Regions from separate parts of the Homo sapiens genome. Here region 1 is linked to region 2. The links come from fine-mapping of genetic effects on gene expression. A gene starts in region 2. The other region holds a variant in brackets. All regions are shown on one strand. Distances are between the middles of the regions. Region 1 overlaps LIG1 (DNA ligase 1). Region 2 holds the start of LIG1 (DNA ligase 1).

Region 1 (5,369 bases), 33 kb after region 2:
GTCAGACTGAGTGCAGGGTCTGCAAACTATCTTAAGCACTCATCTTAGGTTTTACAGTAGTGATGTTATCCCCAGGAGCAATCGGGGAAGCCAGAGGCTGCGTGACCCCTAAACCTAAATTTCTAATCTTGTAGCTAATTTGTGAGTCTTGCGAAGGCAGGTCCTTAGGCAAAAAGGGGTCTTTTCCAGAAAGGGCTATTACCAATTTCGTTTCAGAGTCAAGCCACGAACCAAATTCCTTCCCAAAGTTAGTTCTGCCTATGCCCAGGACTGAACAAGGACAGCTTAAAGGTTAGAAGCAAGATGGAATCGGTTAGGTGTGATTTCTTTCCACTGTCATAATTTCCTCAGTTACGGTTTTGCAAAGGCGGTTTCACCTCCAGCAATCTGTGATTGTCCTCATGGCTCCAGGCCCCAGAGCCTGGGACTGTTCTGAGCCCTTTCCTCTTCTTTCTCCATTTCTTTCTAGTGTCCACCCCCTTAAACCCACCCCACCCCGACACCACACTTTGACCTTGAGGAACCACGTGTTCATACCCCCGTCCCCTCCTCCAGGCTCCGGATGGTGGAGACGCTGAGCAACTTGCTGCGCTCCGTGGTGGCCCTGTCGCCTCCAGACCTCCTCCCTGTCCTCTACCTCAGCCTCAACCACCTTGGGCCACCCCAGCAGGGCCTGGAGCTTGGCGTGGGTGATGGTGTCCTTCTCAAGGCAGTGGCCCAGGCCACAGGTAAGGGGGACTGTGGTTGGAGGGACCAGAAGGACAGGAGCTCAGCCAGAGAAAATGCAGAGGTCAGGTGGATCGGAGAGATGGTGGAGAGAGGCTGTGAAACAGGGTTGAGGAGAAGGCTGAGAGGGAGGAGAGCCTGATGGGGACAGATTTGCAGGGGTGTGGGAGAGAACACAGGGGCAGCAGTTCAGGTGAGGGAGGACCAGGCATGTGCTGGGACAGGGGGTGTGGGGTGCAGGGAAGGGGAGGGCTGGGGAAAGATGCTGGAGGCAGAGACAGCAGGATTTGGGGGCTGAGATGGAAGGTTGGGGCTTAGAGAGGTCTGAAAGGACTTTGACTGGAGGGATTGGAAGGAGTGGGAGGAAAGAACATGGTGTGTGGGGGGCCAGCAGCCTGAAGGGGCCCAGCCGCCAGTGCTGGGTGGAAAGGCTGGTGATGCGGATGGCCCGCCTGCCAAGGGCCTGGAGTGCTCGGTGCTTATCATGAGGACACTGGGGAGCCATGGAAGGATTGTGAGCAGGCAAGGGGCAGCATCCAGGGGGAAGAGGAGCTGGACCCCAGCTGTAGAGAAGAGAGAAGAGGGCAGGAGAGATCTGGCAGACAGTGGATGTCAGGGTGAGGAGGCAGGAGGAATGCCTCCAGGATCTCCCTGGGTGACTGGATGGATGACAAAGCCGTCGGCAGCTTGGGACCCTGGTGAGGGGCAGGCACCTGCAGGGGGCATTAATCACCCCAGCGTGGGGCAGGCATGAGCAACCTCTATCTGTGGGCCCCCAGGGCCATCCAGGAAGTTTGGAAACGGGTCTGAGGCTCACCAGGTCTGGCTCAGAGCCCAGGGTTCGGGCTGGTCAGTGTAGGAGGGATGACCACCCACTGGTGGGTTCTCATCCGCCTGGGGAGAGGATGTGCTGGGAGCACTGGAGCTGGCTTAGGGCCATGGGCACCAACATTTAGGGAAGGCAGGGGTTTCAGGCTTTCATGAGAGGACAGAGGGACTGAGAAAGGTTGACTTGGATCAGGAAAGAGTTACGGGCTTATGGGAGCCAGAGGAGATGAGACTCAAGATTTTCTCACTCATTCACTCAAGATGTGTTTCGGGAGCACTGACGTCATACCAGACCCAGCACACACGGGGTCGGTTAAGAATACTCTGAGCTGCAGGTAACAGAAAACCCAACTACATTGGCTTGGACAAAGAAGGATCTGTTTTTCTCACAAAAGAAGTTGCAGATGCTGGCTTTCCTGCCCAACAATCCATGGCAGCTGGGGCCTCTTCCACTGTCTCATGCCTCCACCCTTGATGGGTCGTGTTCACACTCACACTGCTCTCCGTGCCGCCTTGTGGCCCCCGTGGCTGTCCAAGTCCCGGGTTTGTTGTGAGTTGTTGGCCACTTTGGAGAATCCCGTCCCCTTTGATGTGTGATTCGATAACATCCCATTGGTGAGGCTCACACTGTCGGCTCTCCCATTTGTGGCAGTTTCGCTTCAGGCGCGAGGCCCACCTTCATGTGCTCTGTGCCGCGGCTGAGCATCTGTGGACTGAAACGCGCACTTGTTCGTTCATTACGGATTGCTTTCCCTTTCATTCTTTTCTGTGTTAGGGTTAGGGCGTTATCTCGATAGGTGTAGGCAGGTTATGTTATCTCCACATTTTATTTCAGACCAGAAAAGAGGTGACACACAGTATCTGGTGACAAGGGTGTGTTGGTTCTGATAGGTTGAGAGCTGCTTGTCACAGCTGTCACCGTGACTTGAGGCTCCATCTCCCCAGCTCTTACACCCAGGCGCCCATGGGACCCAGCTCTGGACAGTAAGTGGGGCCAGAGCACATCCCACGTGTGTAAGCTGGTGGCTCCAAAACAAGCCGAAGGGTCTTTGGTCACTGCCAGAGATGTTCATGACCCGCCA[G/A]AGGAAAGGGTCCCTTGGCCTTCTCTGCTCTGTCCACACTCACTTCCCTAGTGACCTTGTCCCGCCTGTGGCTTTAAATCCCATCCGCGCCCTGATGACACCGGCCCAGATGTCTCCCCTGAGTGTGGTCATGCTCGTTCATCCACCGCTTTCCTGGCTCCACGTGCATGTTTGCTGACTTCCTACAGCCAGCGTGGCTGGGGGCACGTTCCCCAAGCCATTTCTACCAAGTGGGTGAGCGTTAGACACAGGGAGGTGCAGGGACTCGCCACAAGCACACACAGCTGGAGAAAATTCATCCAGGCCGCGAGAGAAGGGAGACACGCAGCCACAACTGTCACCCTCGACACCCCCACCCGCGCTCTCCCCTGAAGGTCGGCAGCTGGAGTCCGTCCGGGCTGAGGCAGCCGAGAAAGGCGACGTGGGGCTGGTGGCCGAGAACAGCCGCAGCACCCAGAGGCTCATGCTGCCACCACCTCCGCTCACTGCCTCCGGGGTCTTCAGCAAGTTCCGCGACATCGCCAGGCTCACTGGCAGTGCTGTGAGTGGGGCGGGCCGCTCATCCCGGACCCCAGACATCTTGGGGACCTGAGGCCACGCGTGTGTCAGGAAGGCTTCTGGGTAGACCATCAGCTGGGTCGCATCAGTCCTTCTCATGGGGTGCACAGCTTCCTCTCCTCCTTCCTGCACCCAATCCTAGGGGAGTCTCCTCTTCAGAGTCTAGCAGACCTAATGCCATGGCTGCCACATGACAGGACTCAGTAAATACTTCCTGGATAAAGGGAGAGGGAGGCAAGGAGGAGAGCTAGCTCGTTCTTACTGCCCTAAGAGTGGGCGGCCATGGGAGCTGGGACATGGGGATGGGGTGAGGGAAGGAGGGCAGGTATTCCAAAATGCAGGGCAGCAGCACGGCTGGTGGGGTGGAGGTGTGGTCCCTGCCTTCACCAGGCACTGACGGCTCTTCCCCTGACTCTCCAGTCCACAGCCAAGAAGATAGACATCATCAAAGGCCTCTTTGTGGCCTGCCGCCACTCAGAAGCCCGGTTCATCGCTAGGTAAGCGTGTGGGCCTGTGAGGCTACAGAGGGGGACTGCAGGCTCGGAGGTGAAAGGAGGGAGGGACTGGCAGCTGGAATCATCACAAATGCCCTGACCATCCTTGGATGAGAAAAGCATGAGCAGGAGGCCCAGCCCCTAAAGAGTGGGAAGGGACACCATTTCCTTTCACAGGCCAGCTTCTGTCCCTTGGTAGTGCTGTCTAGAGAAGGCCCCTGGGCCCCTGTGGGTGAAGCATGCTGTGATTGATTGGTGAGGTCTGCCTCGGCTTGGGCGCGGGCCCTGCAGCAGGAAGCCAGGGTTTGTTTGCCATGACAGTGAGAGCAAATCCATTGAGGGCTCACATCATGGAGCATTTCTTGGGAGCCCTGCCCTGTGCCCCGTGCCTTACCTCATCAGTTCCTACCAGCAACTCTGTGAGACTGGTCTTGTTACCCTCACCTCCAGTTTATAGAAGGGGAAATGGAGACATGGGGAGGCAAACTAAGCCACTTGTCTCCTGCCACTGGCTCAAAGCAAGGACCATGCTGGGGTCCTGACCATTACAGTCACCAGGGCGGGCGCCAGGCTCAGTTCTCTCCCTGACTCATCCTCCTCAAGCCTCGCCAACCCCTCAGGGCAGCTGAGATGGGAGGTGCTGGTGCACCTACTTGTGCCCCTCCCCAGTCTATGCTAGTGGGCAGGATCATTACTGCCTGGCTCAGTTTCCTCATCTGTCACATGGGGCTGTGTGATATCTGGGGTCCCTTCCAGGCTCTGAAGATTCTTCTGGTTTTTGAGGAGAGGGTCTACATACATCAAGGTCGAGGAGATCAGAGAAGGGAGGAGGCAAGATTGGGGAGGTGCAGACAAGCCCCCTTCCCTGGCCTGCTCTCTCCCCAGGTCCCTGAGCGGACGGCTGCGCCTTGGGCTGGCAGAGCAGTCGGTGCTGGCTGCCCTCTCCCAGGCAGTGAGCCTCACGCCCCCGGGCCAAGGTGAGCTCCTGTGGCCCGTCTCTGCATCCCTCGCTGGAGTTACCTCAGGCTTCCCCCCTCCTCTTCAGAGGCCCATGCCCGCCCCTTCCCCAGCGGGCCCCTGCCATACCAGGCTCCTCTCTCCTGGGTGGGGGGGAGGGGGCGTCTTGGGCCGCGGCATCTGCATTCCTTGCCATACAGCAAACCACCCACTGCACCCTGGTGTAGCCAAGGATGTGGGTGCCTTCCAAAGCCTCTGGTGGGTCTTTTCTTAGAATTCCCACCAGCCATGGTGGATGCTGGGAAGGGCAAGACAGCAGAGGCCAGAAAGACGTGGCTGGAGGAGCAAGGCATGATCCTGAAGCAGACGTTCTGGTGAGAGCTGGGCAGTGGGTGGAGTTGCCAGGGGCTGTGGGCAGAGTGCCAGGGTGGGGGTGGAGCCAGAGGAGCAGTGGGTGGGGCCAGTGAAGTGACGGACAGGCATCACGAGTGCCGGTCACGGGGTGACTGAGAGCAGAGGTGGTGATCTAGACAAGGCTGGTGCTTGACACAAGGATGGTGACAAAGATCAGGAAGGTGGCAAACAGTGAAGGGTCAGTGACCCCAGGAGAGGTATAGAAAGACGCTGGCAGCGGCCAGGCACAGTGGCTCACGCCTGTAATCCCAGCACTTGGGAGCCTGAAGCAGGCAGATCACTTGAGGTCAGGAGTTTGAGACCAGCCTGG
Region 2 (5,369 bases):
CTAAATAAAATACAATTGGGGTCCATTAAAATACCCCTGGCCACCTGGGTGTGATTCTGGCTCTCCTGGATTTCTCACCTGCCCCTCTTTGCACAGTTGTAGGGAACTACCTGTGAGCTTGTTCTTTTAACGTCAATCTTTCTGTCCAGTCAGAAAGTACCAGAAGGGCAGGGATTTTTGTCTCTTGCCCAACTCCATCGCTCCAACTAGAATATCCCCAGCCCACAGCATGGGACCTGGCCCCTTATTCACTGAATAGATGGATCCTTTTCTTTATCCTGCGGCTTCTCTGCAGTTCAGTCTCCCAGTCTCTGTCTCCCAGTCTTTGTCACGTGTACAAAACCTGGCTCTTCTGTTTCCCTGGCTGTCTCTGGTGTCTCTGCCTCCATGTCTCCATGTTTCTGGAATTTTCCGTGACTATTTTCTCCTCTTGGGGTGTGTGTGTTTTACGCTCTGCCTCTCGAAGTCTCTATTACATTCTGTAAGTCAGGCCGGGCACAGTGGCTCGCGGCTGTAATCCCAGCACTTTGGGAGGCAAGACGGGCAGATCACCTGAGGTCATGAGTTTGAGACCAGCCTGGCCAACATGGTGAAACCCCATCTCTACAAAAATCCAAAAATTGGCCAGGCGTGGTGGCGCGTGCCTGTAATCCCAGCTACTCAGGAGGTTGAGGCAGGAGAAACAACGCTTGAACTCGGGAGGTGGAGGTTGCAGTGAGCCGAGATTGTGCCATTGCACTCCAGCCTGAGTGACAGAGCAAGACTCTGTCTCAAAAAAACAACACAAAGCAAAACAAAACAAAAACAAAAACAAAAAACCACACAAAAATTAGCCGGGCATGATGGCAGGTGCCTGTAGTCCTAGCTACTCGGGAGGCTGAGGCGGGAGAATCACTTGAACCTAGGAGGTGGAGGCTGCAGATGGCACCACTGCACTCAAGCCTGGGCGACAGAGCGAGACTCCATCTCGAAAAAAAAAAAAAAGTCTGTAAGTCGGGCCCACACCATCTCTTGCTCCGTGAGTATCTTTGTCTCTCTAGCTCCTCTTCTTCTCTCAGTACATGTCCCTCCTTGACTCCCGCCTCTCTGCAAGGTGTATTTGGCTGCCTCAGTTGGCCTCTCCCCCTCTGCATCTCTGGGTGGGGTGTTCTCTGCCCGTCTCCCACCCACACCCACCCCCGGTGCTCCCCTTCCCCCCAGCAGGACAGCGGCTCAGGTTCACGCACCCCACGGCGGGCCGGCTGGGCGCACGCACGTCCTTGCACACAAGCCGCACGTAGCTGTACTTGAGCACGTCGATGAGCGTGTAGAGCGGGGGCGCACTGGCCCAGCGGCAGCGCGCCAGGTGCATGGAGCTCTTGACGAAGAAGAGCGCCAGCCGCTGCTGGCACCACGCGTCGAAGAAGCGGCTGAACTCGGCCCACGAGAAGAAGGCCCGCTCCCGCAGCTCCTGCTCCTCCTGCCCCGCAGCCGTGCCGGGTGGGGGCTCCGGCCGCTCCATCCTGGGGGCCTGCGTGGAGGAGGGGAGAACAGGTGGATATCAGACCCATTCCCACCCGGGGTATCTCATCTACTCCATTCTTGGCCTGCCCCGTCGGTTGCTGGTGCCTCTATCGAGGTGGGTAGCCCGGGGTCGGACGTGCCTGTTTTTCTCCAAATATATAAATATCAACCTCCATCCTATCTTTGGCCTCCTCCCACCGCCTTATCCCTGGTTCACTTGGAGCCTGTCATCTTGATTCCTAATTCCAACTCGTCTCCTCCTCCGCAGATGTGACCCTTAGGTACAGTTGGAATCTCTCCTCCCAAAATACGACCCTTAAGCTCAGATGTCCCTTAAGGACATCTCCTCAAATGTGTTCTCAAATTCCAGCTAAAACCTCCTCCCCTTCCAGCTGTGTCTCTCACCCAAGAGTAACTTCTAACTCTCGTATTCATCTGGAACTCCTCCTTCCATGTGCCAACAGTTGGCTGTAACCCCTCCAAAGACGCTCCATCTCCAGATGTGCTCCCACATCCAGGCCACGGACCCCTCACCCGGTCACATGCTTCATGCACCTGTGGCTCCGCACTCCCCAGATGTGCCTCTGGCGTGCAGCTGTTGCCCCTTCCCCCGATTATGACCCTATGGCTCGCCACATGCAGCTGTAGCTGGGGCTTCCCTGAGACACTCTCATCTCCAGATGTACTCCCCACATGCAGTTATCCACGCTTCGCCTACAGGTGTGTGCCCCACTTGTGGCTAGTTCTCCTCGGAAGTGTCACCAGTATTCACCTGTGGTCCCCTCCTCCTCAGATGCGGCCCCCAGTCCAGCTGTGGGCCCCTCCTCCCAGTTACATCCACCATCCCCCGCAATATGCATCTTCGTTCTAGACATGGCCCCTCGTCCTCGGATGGGCTCCTTCACCCCAGATGCTCCCCCCACGTCCAGCTGCGCGTCTCCCCTCGAGCAGCCCCATCCAGCCCGCTCCCGACCCTCCTACTCCCCCCCTCCCCGCCCGCTGCGGCACCTTCCAGCCCCGCCGTCCCACCTAGCTGTGCCTCTCCCCTCCCCAAGATGTGCACCCTTCCCGCCCCTCCCCACTCACCTACCCGCCCCGGAGCGGCGTCCACCTCCCACAATGCCCCGCGCCCAGGCCTGGCCCGGCCCTTGCTCCCGGGATGCCCCGCGCGGTCTCCCGCCTCTCTTCCCGCCGTGCCTCGCGGGGGCGCTTCCACCGATTCCTCCTCTTTCCCTGCCAGTCACTCCTCAGACCCTCAGCCACACCCGCTCATCCAGGGCGAGGGAAAGCGCGGGCATTTTCCCAGTGTGCTCTGCGGGAGGGCTCGCCCCACTTCACCCCTTTTCCCGCCCTCCTCCCATTCGGGAGACTACGACTCCCAGTGTCCTCCGCGCGACGGCGGCGGTGCGGACGGTGCCCAGGTCCCGCCCCTAGGCTCTGCCCCGCCCCCGCCCGCAGACGTCTGCGCGCGAATGCCGTGGCGCGAACTTGGGACTGCAGAGGCGCGCCTGGCGGATCTGAGTGTGTTGCCCGGGCAGCGGCGCGCGGGACCAACGCAAGGCAAGTGGGGCCGTCCGCAAGCAGATGGGAGGCGGAGGGCGGCGGGTGCGCCGAATGCTTGGGGCCTATGCTTCGCCATGTCGGGGTGTCTGCAGAGGAGTGGGCGTGGGGACGCTGAGGCTGCCGAGAGCGCGGTGGAGACGGAAGAGCGCGGGCTGCGGGCCGCCGGAGAGTGCAGAGAGGTGTCTCCCAGAGGGAGGGGGGCCAGGTAGAGGGTAGACGAGAGACAGAGACAGTTGGACAGGTCCTCTGAGAAGAGGCCTTGAGGTGCGAGTTCACCTGGAAAGGGGAGAGGCCAAATGGAACTGAGGGGCGGGGCCGGGGGGGGGAAAACTGTGTGGGCGGGGCCAGCTGGAAATCGGAAGGCCCCCCGAGGGGGCGGGGCTATCTGGGAGGGGGAGGGGCTGAAGGGAGCTAAGGGGCGGGGCCGGGGAAAAGATTGCGTGTGGGCGGGGCCACCTGGAAGGGGGAGGTGCCAAGGGTGGGGCTGGCTGGGAACCGGAAGTGCTGAGGGGGCGGGGGCCACCTGGAAGTGCTGAGGGGGCGGGGCTAGAAGAAGGTAAATCGCGGGCAGCAGCATCACCTGGAAGGAGTGGGCCCTACTGGAGGGAGATGGGTGGTGTCAGGGAGAGGTCAGTGGTAAGGTCCAGGTCTAGGTAAAGGGCTCGTAAAAGATGGAGAATCATCTGAATGGGGAGACGTCTGGCCTAATGTATGCTTGATAAAGGGATGGAGCTTACCTCTTGTTTTTACTTTTTATTTTGAAATAATTATAGATTCAAGGAAGTTGTGAAAAGAGTATATCCATCTTCCCCTAATGGTGACATCTTATGTAGTCCCAATATCGAAACCAGGAAATTGACATCAATACAGTTCTGTTAACTAGATTACAGACCTTGTTCAGTTTTCACCAGTTTGTGTGGTGTGAGTGTGATTGTGCATCTGTGTGCCCGTGCAGCTTGATTCCTTGTATAGATTTGTGTAACCCCCATCGTAATTGTGATATAGAACAGTTCCCTCTCCACATAAGAACTCCTCCCCAGGCCCCTGGCAACCGCTAATGTGTTCACCATCTCTAGTTTTGTCATTCGGAGATTGTTATGTAAATGGAATCATATATTATTAGGATGTTACCTTTTTTCTACTCTGCACAATGCCCTGGAGGTCCACCCAAGTTGTTGCTTGTATCAGTGCTTCGTTTCTTTTTATTACTGAGTACTGTTTCATCCTTACTTGATATTTTTCCTGTCATTATCTCTTCATTTTGGTAACCGCTTTATTGAGATATAATTCACAATTATACAGTTTGCCCATTTAAAGTGTACAATTTTGCCCATTTAAAATGTACAAGTCAGCGGTTTTCAGTGTATTTAAAGTGTATTTCAGTGTATTTAAAGTGCCCATTTAAAGTGTACAAGTCAGTGGTTTTCAGTGTATGCGCTGAGTTGTGCAGTTATTACCATAATCGATTTTAGGATATTTTTATCATCCCCCCAAAAAACTCCTATACCTTTTATCCATCATTCATTTAATTTTAACCCTGAACAATATTCTACCATATGGTATTCCAGTAATGAGGGAACCAGTTCCCTAAGGGTAGACATTCCACCAGTTTCCAGTCTTCTCTCATTACAGTTAGTGCTGCAGCAGGTAACTTTGTGCCTCACTTGGTCCACCTGTGAGGGTCTCTGTGGGCCAAATACACAGAAGTGGGGTTGCCGTTCCGATAGAGACGCCAGGTGGTCCTCCAGAGGCATCAACCAGTTTGTTCCCCCCAACTCAGCAGTACACAGAGTTGAGAAGCCAGCCTTGAGTACCGTGGTAAGGAGAAAGGAACGTGGGCTTTGGAGCCAGCCACACCGGGTTTTGAAGCCTTGCCTGAACCCCAGCTATGTTCCTCTGTCCTCATTACCTTCATCTATAAAGTGGGGATGATCTCACCTGTCTTGGAGGGCTGACTTGAGGATTGAGGGTATTTGAGAATGTGATCAGCCTGTCAGGCATAGAGTAGGCTTCCCAGTAAACGCTTATGTATTTCTCCTTCCCTTGCAACTCAGTCTGGTGGTTAAGAGGTGAGCTGTGGAGCAGGCCGACCTGGGGTGGAACGTACTATAGATGCAGGTTAAGTTCCTTTGAAAACCCCTCTGTGCCTTAGTTTCTGTAACAGAGTTGTTGTGGAGAGTCAGTATAATTGAGAATGTCAAGTACCTAGGCAGTTGAGCACTCAGGAGGGATCGTAATAGTTTTCTCCTTTGCCCTCAGGATTTTGGTGGCTAAGTCCCTAACCTGCTTTCTGTGTGAACTGT

Evidence for each region. PIP is the estimated chance that this variant, and not a neighbour inherited with it, causes the effect.
Region 1: its variant is fine-mapped to the expression of LIG1 in whole blood (TOPMed, PIP above 0.99).

Annotation. Positions count from the first base shown.
Region 1 is chr19:48,135,330-48,140,698 of GRCh38, reverse strand. It overlaps LIG1 (DNA ligase 1), which reads left to right. Exons shown (of 28, transcript NM_000234.3): 12 at 556-728; 13 at 3,011-3,177; 14 at 3,615-3,691; 15 at 4,574-4,665; 16 at 4,920-5,019. Among named protein-coding and RNA genes, the nearest start is that of LIG1-AS1, 7.8 kb to the left of the region's middle. The variant G/A (reference allele first, on the strand shown) is at 2,637.
Region 2 is chr19:48,167,935-48,173,303 of GRCh38, reverse strand. LIG1 (DNA ligase 1) reads left to right here and starts at 2,960. Exons shown (of 28, transcript NM_000234.3): 1 at 2,960-3,063. It overlaps ZSWIM9 (zinc finger SWIM-type containing 9), which reads right to left and starts at 2,624. Exons shown (of 4, transcript NM_199341.4): 1 at 2,590-2,624; 2 at 1,227-1,510. The coding sequence starts at 1,501. RefSeq lists silencers at 2,432-2,571, 3,372-3,421, 3,452-3,521 and an enhancer at 2,819-3,478.